Homo sapiens: one gene and its partner. The protein of the gene in region 1 purifies or fractionates together with the protein of each later gene. This does not show direct contact. Each region holds a gene or a part of one and is shown on either strand. Other genes may lie near its edges.

Evidence for each region. The genes of interacting proteins can lie anywhere in the genome.
Region 2: the proteins of ERGIC2 (region 1) and ELSPBP1 purify together in Homo sapiens (co-immunoprecipitation; one large-scale study listed by IntAct). This does not show direct contact.

The regions. Positions count from the first base shown.
Region 1 is NC_000012.12:29,346,668-29,350,321, reverse strand, and holds part of ERGIC2 (endoplasmic reticulum-Golgi intermediate compartment protein 2), read left to right. Parts: intron 1-253; coding exon 254-309; intron 310-1,144; coding exon 1,145-1,243; intron 1,244-3,654. UniProt on the Homo sapiens protein: Possible role in transport between endoplasmic reticulum and Golgi.
Region 2 is NC_000019.10:48,022,081-48,025,734, forward strand, and holds the end of ELSPBP1 (epididymal sperm-binding protein 1 precursor), read left to right. Parts: intron 1-89; coding exon 90-247; 3' UTR 248-254; exon of another isoform or gene 255-296; intron 297-2,871; 3' UTR 2,872-3,074; downstream 3,075-3,654.

The DNA of each region.
Region 1 (3,654 bases):
GATTTTGCATCATGGTCCACAAAGCCTAAAGTATTTACTATCTGGCTCTTTGCCAAAAATGTTTGCCAACCTCCAGCAGTTTATTGCATTGCTGAGATGAGTAGACTTGTCTGCTCAGTCAATAGGCCAAATGCATTCTTATGTTATTTTGTACTAAGAAAAATTATATAACTTAGGGAAGATCCAGTTTCTGATTTTAATTAATTATACATATAAATGGTACTACTTTAATAATTGTTTTTTCTCCTTTCAGGGCAATTCCACATCCTCGTGGTCATGCACATTTGGCAGCACTTGTCAACCATGAATGTAAGCAGATTCTGACTTTTTTTCAGTAAAGATGTACTTGAAAAAATATTATTTTTAAAAGTGCAGATATAGTGTAGTTGAAAGTGAGCTGTTTTGAAAACATATTCATCCAAAGGAAAAAATAAATTTTTAAATTGATTTACTTTAATCTGCATTTGTATTTGGTCATGGCTCTGAGTTGCTGAGGTTAGGGAGGAAAGCCTAGTGTACTTTCTATAACTTTGTACACATTTCTGCTAATTTTTAGGGATAAAGAAAATAATATATTTGCAGTTTATTTCAATTTGCAAATTGAAATATGGATGTATAGACATGTATAAAGTATTCAGGTTAGTTTGGTATCATGATTGTCTTAAGACTTAAGTTCTTAAAGTCTGCTTTAGAGGACAAAACAAGTAATGGATTCCACAGAAAATTAGTTTGGTCACATTTAGCAATAGTGTATTAAAAATATATCTGATCAGTTTTATTATATGGCCACATGGCCATCATTCCAATTCTAACAATACCGTCCTGTTAACTATATGATGATTTGGAAAAGGAAAGATGTATATTTTTGGCTTTCATTATATATTAATATTTTCTAGACGTTAAATTGTATATAATTATTAAATTTGAGATATAGCATTTTGTCAGAATTTATTTTATACATTTAATTCGCATATATTTACATTTATTTTTCTCAAAGTATTGTGGCTTAAAATACTGTATTATTATCCTTGAAGATTTTAAACATTTTCATTTGAGAATAGATAAGGATGTAAACCAGTCTGTACCAAGTAATTTTGAATAATATAATTTCTCTGCTAAGTTGTTTTTATTTTTTGCCTTTTAGCTTACAATTTTTCTCATAGAATAGATCATTTGTCTTTTGGAGAGCTTGTTCCAGCAATTATTAATCCTTTAGATGGAACTGAAAAAATTGCTATAGATCGTAAGTATTTAATAATTATTGTTGGATTTTACATGTAGAAAATTTTGCTTATAACCTGAATATTAATACATTTTTAATGTCTTCCTAACTACTGTGTAAAGATAATCTTTAAGTGGTTGGTGATTGAGATGTATGTGAAGAGAATTTGTCCTAGTAGTGGATGAAATTTGAATATTCAAAAATGAGCCATAGAACAGAATAAAGAAATTCAAGTTAAAAGATGAAGGAATTAAAAGGCAGAAGGAGTTCAATTTAAACAGTAGAAATAGATGAAAGGTTAATACATTAACAGGGCATAACTGCACTTTTTTGTATTCACCAAAGAATAAGAATGAAAAAAAGGTTCAACATTATGAGAAGAATTTTCTTCTTTGTATAATATAGGTTCAAAGTTTTAAAATGCATATATATCATTTCAGAAACCTCTCTGGAGAATTTTACAAACACCAGAAACCTAGTTATTCTGGAATGGTTTGGTTATTAACATAGAAGGAGTACATTATAGCACAGATAACCTTTTTAAAATGTTCTATTTAACCTTCTGCTCCATTTAAAGTATCAAGTCTATCCAAATATGGAAAGATCATTTTCTTAGTTTTTTAGAAAGTAGTCTGTTCTCATGTTTTCTGCAGGTTTTTGATTGCCTCTTTCTAAAATAGTCATATTATATACCATGTTCCAGCTATTGGACATTTTAAGGACTTCTGAAGCTTGTTCAGCTAGTAGGAATTCTATCCTTTGTAAAATTGTAATTAAGGATTTAGTTTTTTATTAATTTAAGTAGATTTATTAATATCCTATTCAGATTTATTCATATTCTTTACTTTTTAGCAGTGTTATAATCATATATTAAAGATGTTTAGAATTTAGAATACTGATTTACATTCATGAATATTTTATGTTCATGTGGGAATGTTTCACTTCAGGAAACCTGAGTGTACTAAATTTAGAAATGTGTGGATGGAAACATTTTGAGATTTATAAGCTTTAGTCAGTATAATCTAATCTGTAATCTAAGCATATGTTAATTCTCCTCTGAAATGCATTGCATGTTACCTGAGAGATGCTCATTTGGAAACATACTGGTCGATGCTTTGTTTCAAGATGCTAAAATGAACTACAAATTTTTGCACAGAAGCTCTTCTAAATATAAACAGGTCAATTTTCAAAAAGCTGTTTTTAAGTGTACTTCTTTATAAATTCAGAGAAACTAAGAGGTATTTAGAGTCATATTCTGAAATGCCGTTAGGTGAGTATCATCAGGTTTTTCAAAGCTTTAAAGCAGTTTGTATACTTTTCTCCTTCGTAATATATGTTTTTTTCAGCCTCTTTTTCCAAAAAGAAAAAAATCAACATTACATATCTGCTATGTCAGGTAGCTATCCCTTTCCTGATGTTCTCCAGAAGTATTGCAGGAGTTACTTAACAATTAACATCTTTAATGCAGTACAGATTTGGATAAACAAGGTAGACATAGTCCCTGCCCTTCATAGAGCGCACGTTCCTATAGGGAATTAGATCTTTAGGTAATAAGTGTTAGGGCAAACGGCTCTGAACAAAATAAAGGAGATTGCCTATGATATGAGAAAGGGCATGGAAGAGGCTGTGGTATTTGAAAAAAACTTGAGTGAAGTAAATAAGTGAGCTAAGCGATTATCTTTTTGAGAGCATTGCAGGCAGCTTTATTATTAATGAAGCCGGTAGAAATAAAACAACCTATATGTGCTGCCACAAACTGGACAACCTAACTCCATACTCCTCCTACCCTGCTGACTTCTCAAATGGCAGGGATGGCTCACTTTCCTAATGGTAGAAGGTGGTTATGTATGTCTTGAAGACAGAGCTGTTTAAGAGAGAGAATGCCTATACTATCTAATTGAGTGGCTTAGCCACACATGATTACTTTTTGCAGATGAATCATTCCTTCCATGAGTGAGAGAGAAGTGGAGAGGAAGGTCAAAGCTTTTACTCTTTTATGTACAAAGGGGTGCAAGCTTCTATTTAAATCTGGGAGAATTTTTTCTGCTTAAATTTAAGACCATATTCCCCTTGAGTGGAACCGCCTGGGTTCAAGTTCTCACTCTGCCACTTAATAACTTGGACTTTGGCCTGTTTCTTAACATCCCTGTACTTGAGTTGCTTCATCTCTAACAAAAGGATAATAAAAACATTTACTTGCTTCTCTAGTTGAATCTATGGATAGGTGTATCTAATTATACTTTTTCTAGAGAATTCTCTAGACCCGGAGAATTAACATGTTTTATATTATGTGAATGGGTAATTGTTTACAGTTAATTAGTAATTGGTAATATTCTGGTATTTAAAACTTGTGTCAAACTTAGAGATGCCTAATGACTGTATAAAAATGATCCTTTTGATTATACAGTAACCCCAGGCCATCATTGAGTAGT
Region 2 (3,654 bases), on another chromosome or scaffold:
TGAAATCTAGGGTGGGCCTGAAGCCCACGCCTCTACGACAGTGTGAAGCCTGAGGAGTAACCTTTGTTTTATCCCCTTCTGCTTCCTAGGAATTTCCGCGTTGGTCCCTGGCTTTCCTTGTCACTTTCCGTTCAACTATAAAAACAAGAATTATTTTAACTGCACTAACGAAGGATCAAAGGAGAACCTTGTGTGGTGTGCAACTTCTTACAACTACGACCAAGACCACACCTGGGTGTATTGCTGATGCTGAGGTGAGAGCAGGGACCAACAGTGGTCATTTCACGGATGCAGAGGTGAGACAGGTGCACAACTGGTGTGTCACTGATGCGAAGGCGAGATCTGCTTTTTCAAGCGTGTCTGATTAGCGTCGCTGATGTGAAGGCGAGATCTGTTGCTTTTCCAGCATGTCTGATTAGCTGAGGTTCCCAGCAATGCGGGCTCCTGTTGTCAAAGATAAGGTGGAGTTGGGGAAGACTGGAACAACTCCCCAGATTAGAAGGATGAAAGAAATTGGGATTTCCCCCAGAAGCAGGAGAGCAGAGGGGGATTGGCAAACTTTTTCAGACCCAGGAAGGTATCATTCCAAGTTTCAAGTCTGGGAGGCTTTGGCTGTTGATGATTAGAAAAGTGGAATTTCTCAAAGTGGAGCATGGTATGAAAAAACAACCCAGAAAAGGGGATAACTGACCAGCTGTGGTGACTCACACCTGTAATCCTAGTGCTTTGGGAGGCCAAGGCAGGAGGATCAGTTGAGGCCAGGAGTTTGAGACCACCCTGGGCAATGTAGCAAGACCCTGTCTCTACAAAAAAAAAAAAAATTAGTTGGGTGTGATAGCACACATCTGTAGTCCCAGCTACTCAGGAGGCTGAGGTCAGAGGATCCCTTGAACTCAGGAGTTGCAGTGAGCTATGATTACACCACTGTACCCCAGCCTGGGGAACAGAGTGAGACCTTGTCTAAGAAAGAAAAAGAGAAAGATGGACGAAAGGAAGGAAAGAAGGAAGAAAGATGAAGGAAGGAAGGAAAGAGAGAGGGAGGAAAAGAGAGAGGAAGGGAAGAAAGGAGGGAGGGAGGGAAGGAAGGAGGAAGGGAGGGAAGAAAGAACGGAGGGGAAAGGAAGGAAGGAGGGAAGGAAGGAGGGAGGGAAGGAAGAAAGAGGAAAGAAAGGAGGTAGAGAGAGGGAGGAAAGAAGAAAGGAGGGAGGAAAGGAAGGAAGGAGAGAAGAAAGGAAGGAGAGAGGGAAAGAAGGAAGGGAGGGAGGAAGGAAAGAAGGAAGGGAGGAAGGAAGAGAGGAAAGGAGGGAGGAGGGAGGGAGGAAGTGAGGGAGGAGGGAGGGAGGGAAGGAGGAAGGGAGAAAGTAGGAAAGGGAGGAGGGAAGGAATGGAGGAAGGGAGGAGGGAAGGGAGGGAGGGAAGGAAAAGAGGAAGGAAATAAGGAAGGAAGGGAGGAAGGAAAGAAGGAAGAAAAGGGAAGGGAAAGGAAGGGAAGGAAGGGAGGGAGGAAGGAAGGAAGGGAGGGAGGGAGGGAAGAAAGGGAAGGAGGGAAGGAAGCAAGGAAAGGAAGGATAACCCAGAAGCCAAGACACCATGGTGTGCATCCATTGCCCCCATCACTGAGTAGCTGACCAAGGGAAAAATGGGGTTTATTTCTCTTCCTTCACCATTTGGGCCTCCTGCCCCACCTCAGCCCGCTGGTCATCAAGTACCTCCACAGAACCAACTTTATCCCTCTTTTCTTTTTTTCTTTTTTCTTTCTTCTTTCTTTATTTTTTTCTTTTTCTTTATTTTATTTATTTATTTTTTTTGAGACGGGGTCTCACTCTGTCGCCCAGGCTGGAGTGCAGTGGTGCAATCTCAGCTCACTGCAGCCTCTGCCTCCTGGGTTCAAGAAATTCTCCCACCTCAGCCTCCTGAGTAGCTGGGATTACAGGGGTGTGCCACCATGCCCAGCAATTTTTTTTTTTTTTTTTTTGTATTTTTAGTAGAGACGGGGTTTCACCATGTTGGCCAGGCTGGTCTCAAACTCCTGACCTCAGGTGATCCATCCAACTCGGCCTCCCAAAGTGCTGGGATTACAGGCGTGAGTCACTGTACCTGGCCTATCCCTCCTTTTCTTCTAGTCTTTTCCTCTCTCTACATTCTTCACAAAGGACCAGCTGATTGAAGCAGGTGGTGCAGAGGGTATTTCTAAAGGTGGTTATTTAAGCTTGAAAGATGTTCTCCAGCCTGTAGAAATGGTCTCTAAATCTCCCGCATGGATCAACTGACCTCACTGCTCTGTGACTTCTGGAATCTAAATAAAAAAAGAGAAGCCCTTTCATCAGATGTGTAGACAAAACCCCATCCCTCCTCCCTTTGGGGTGGAAAACCCTGGTGGTTCTAGCAATGTCTGTCCTTACAATGCATGTGGCTTATGGATGACACTAAATTAGCGGGCCCTTCCTGAATTTTGCCTTGGTAATGAAAATCATCTTCCTGGAATAGAGGAGAGGGAAAGGAGGGGGTTTGGAACTCTGGGCACCATCTTAACAGGGTAGATATTAAAAAACACCCACAGTGGCGTTCAGTCTGTGGCTAGGACTAGGAACAGCGTCCAGCCTCTGACTTCTGTCCATCACAGCAGAACTGGCACTTTGCAGGTCCCCTTCCCCTTAGCATAGAGGTGAGATTGAGGAGCTCATTGTTCATTGATCTCCTTGCTCCTATGAGCTAGGCAGGGATGTGGGGGTGGGGGCGTCTGATTCCTCTCAGCTCAGCTGCTTCCGACTAAGTCTGGAAAACCAATACAAAGTCATTTTTAATTCACCTTCCTCTTTGAGTCAATGCCTACTTATTCATTAAACTCAGATCTTTGCTTCTATTTTCAAGGAAAGGAGAAATATCTTCAGAGGAAGACTGCCGCCATACTGAGGCTGAGCACAGATTTGTCTTTTTCATTGCATCTGTCAAGCTTAAATAACCACCTTTAGAAATACCCTCTGCACCACCTGCTTCAATCAGCTGGTCCTTTGTGAAGAACGTAGAGAGAATGCGGCATAACCACCAATAAAGGAGTCTTGATTTAACCCTGGGATCTGCCTTTTCTGCTTCCTAAGATGAGACCGATGGTGAATGTGTGGGGAAGGAAAGATTGGTAGCCAGGCTGTCGAGTCTCATAGTGTGGAGAGGTCAGACTCTCAGGCCAGGGACCTCTAGGAGTCATTACAGCCTGCTCTGTCTTCTGAGGGAAATCACAGATTTGGGTGGGGTGTTTGTAGATACATATTAAATTATTAATGAATAAATTAGGAAGTAAACAGAGGGTAGAAAATTCACCACAAGACTGCCTCAACCATTCCCTCCCTGTGCCCATGGCAGATATCAAGAACTGATTACAGAATCTGATTCCCTCTCAGCCCAGATGGAAATTCACATTGTTGTTCTTGTTCTTTCTTCTTCTTCCTTTCACTCTTCTTCTCCCTCTCCTCCTCCTCCATCTTCTCCTCCTTCTCCTCCATGTCTCCTCTTACTCCTCTCCTACTCCCTCTTGTCCTCCTTCTTCTACTCCTCCCTCTTCTCCTCCTCCCTCTCCACCTCCTTCTCCTCCTCCCTCTCCTTCTCCTCCTCCTTCTCCTCCTCCCTCTCCTTCTCCTTTTCCCTCTTCACCTCCTC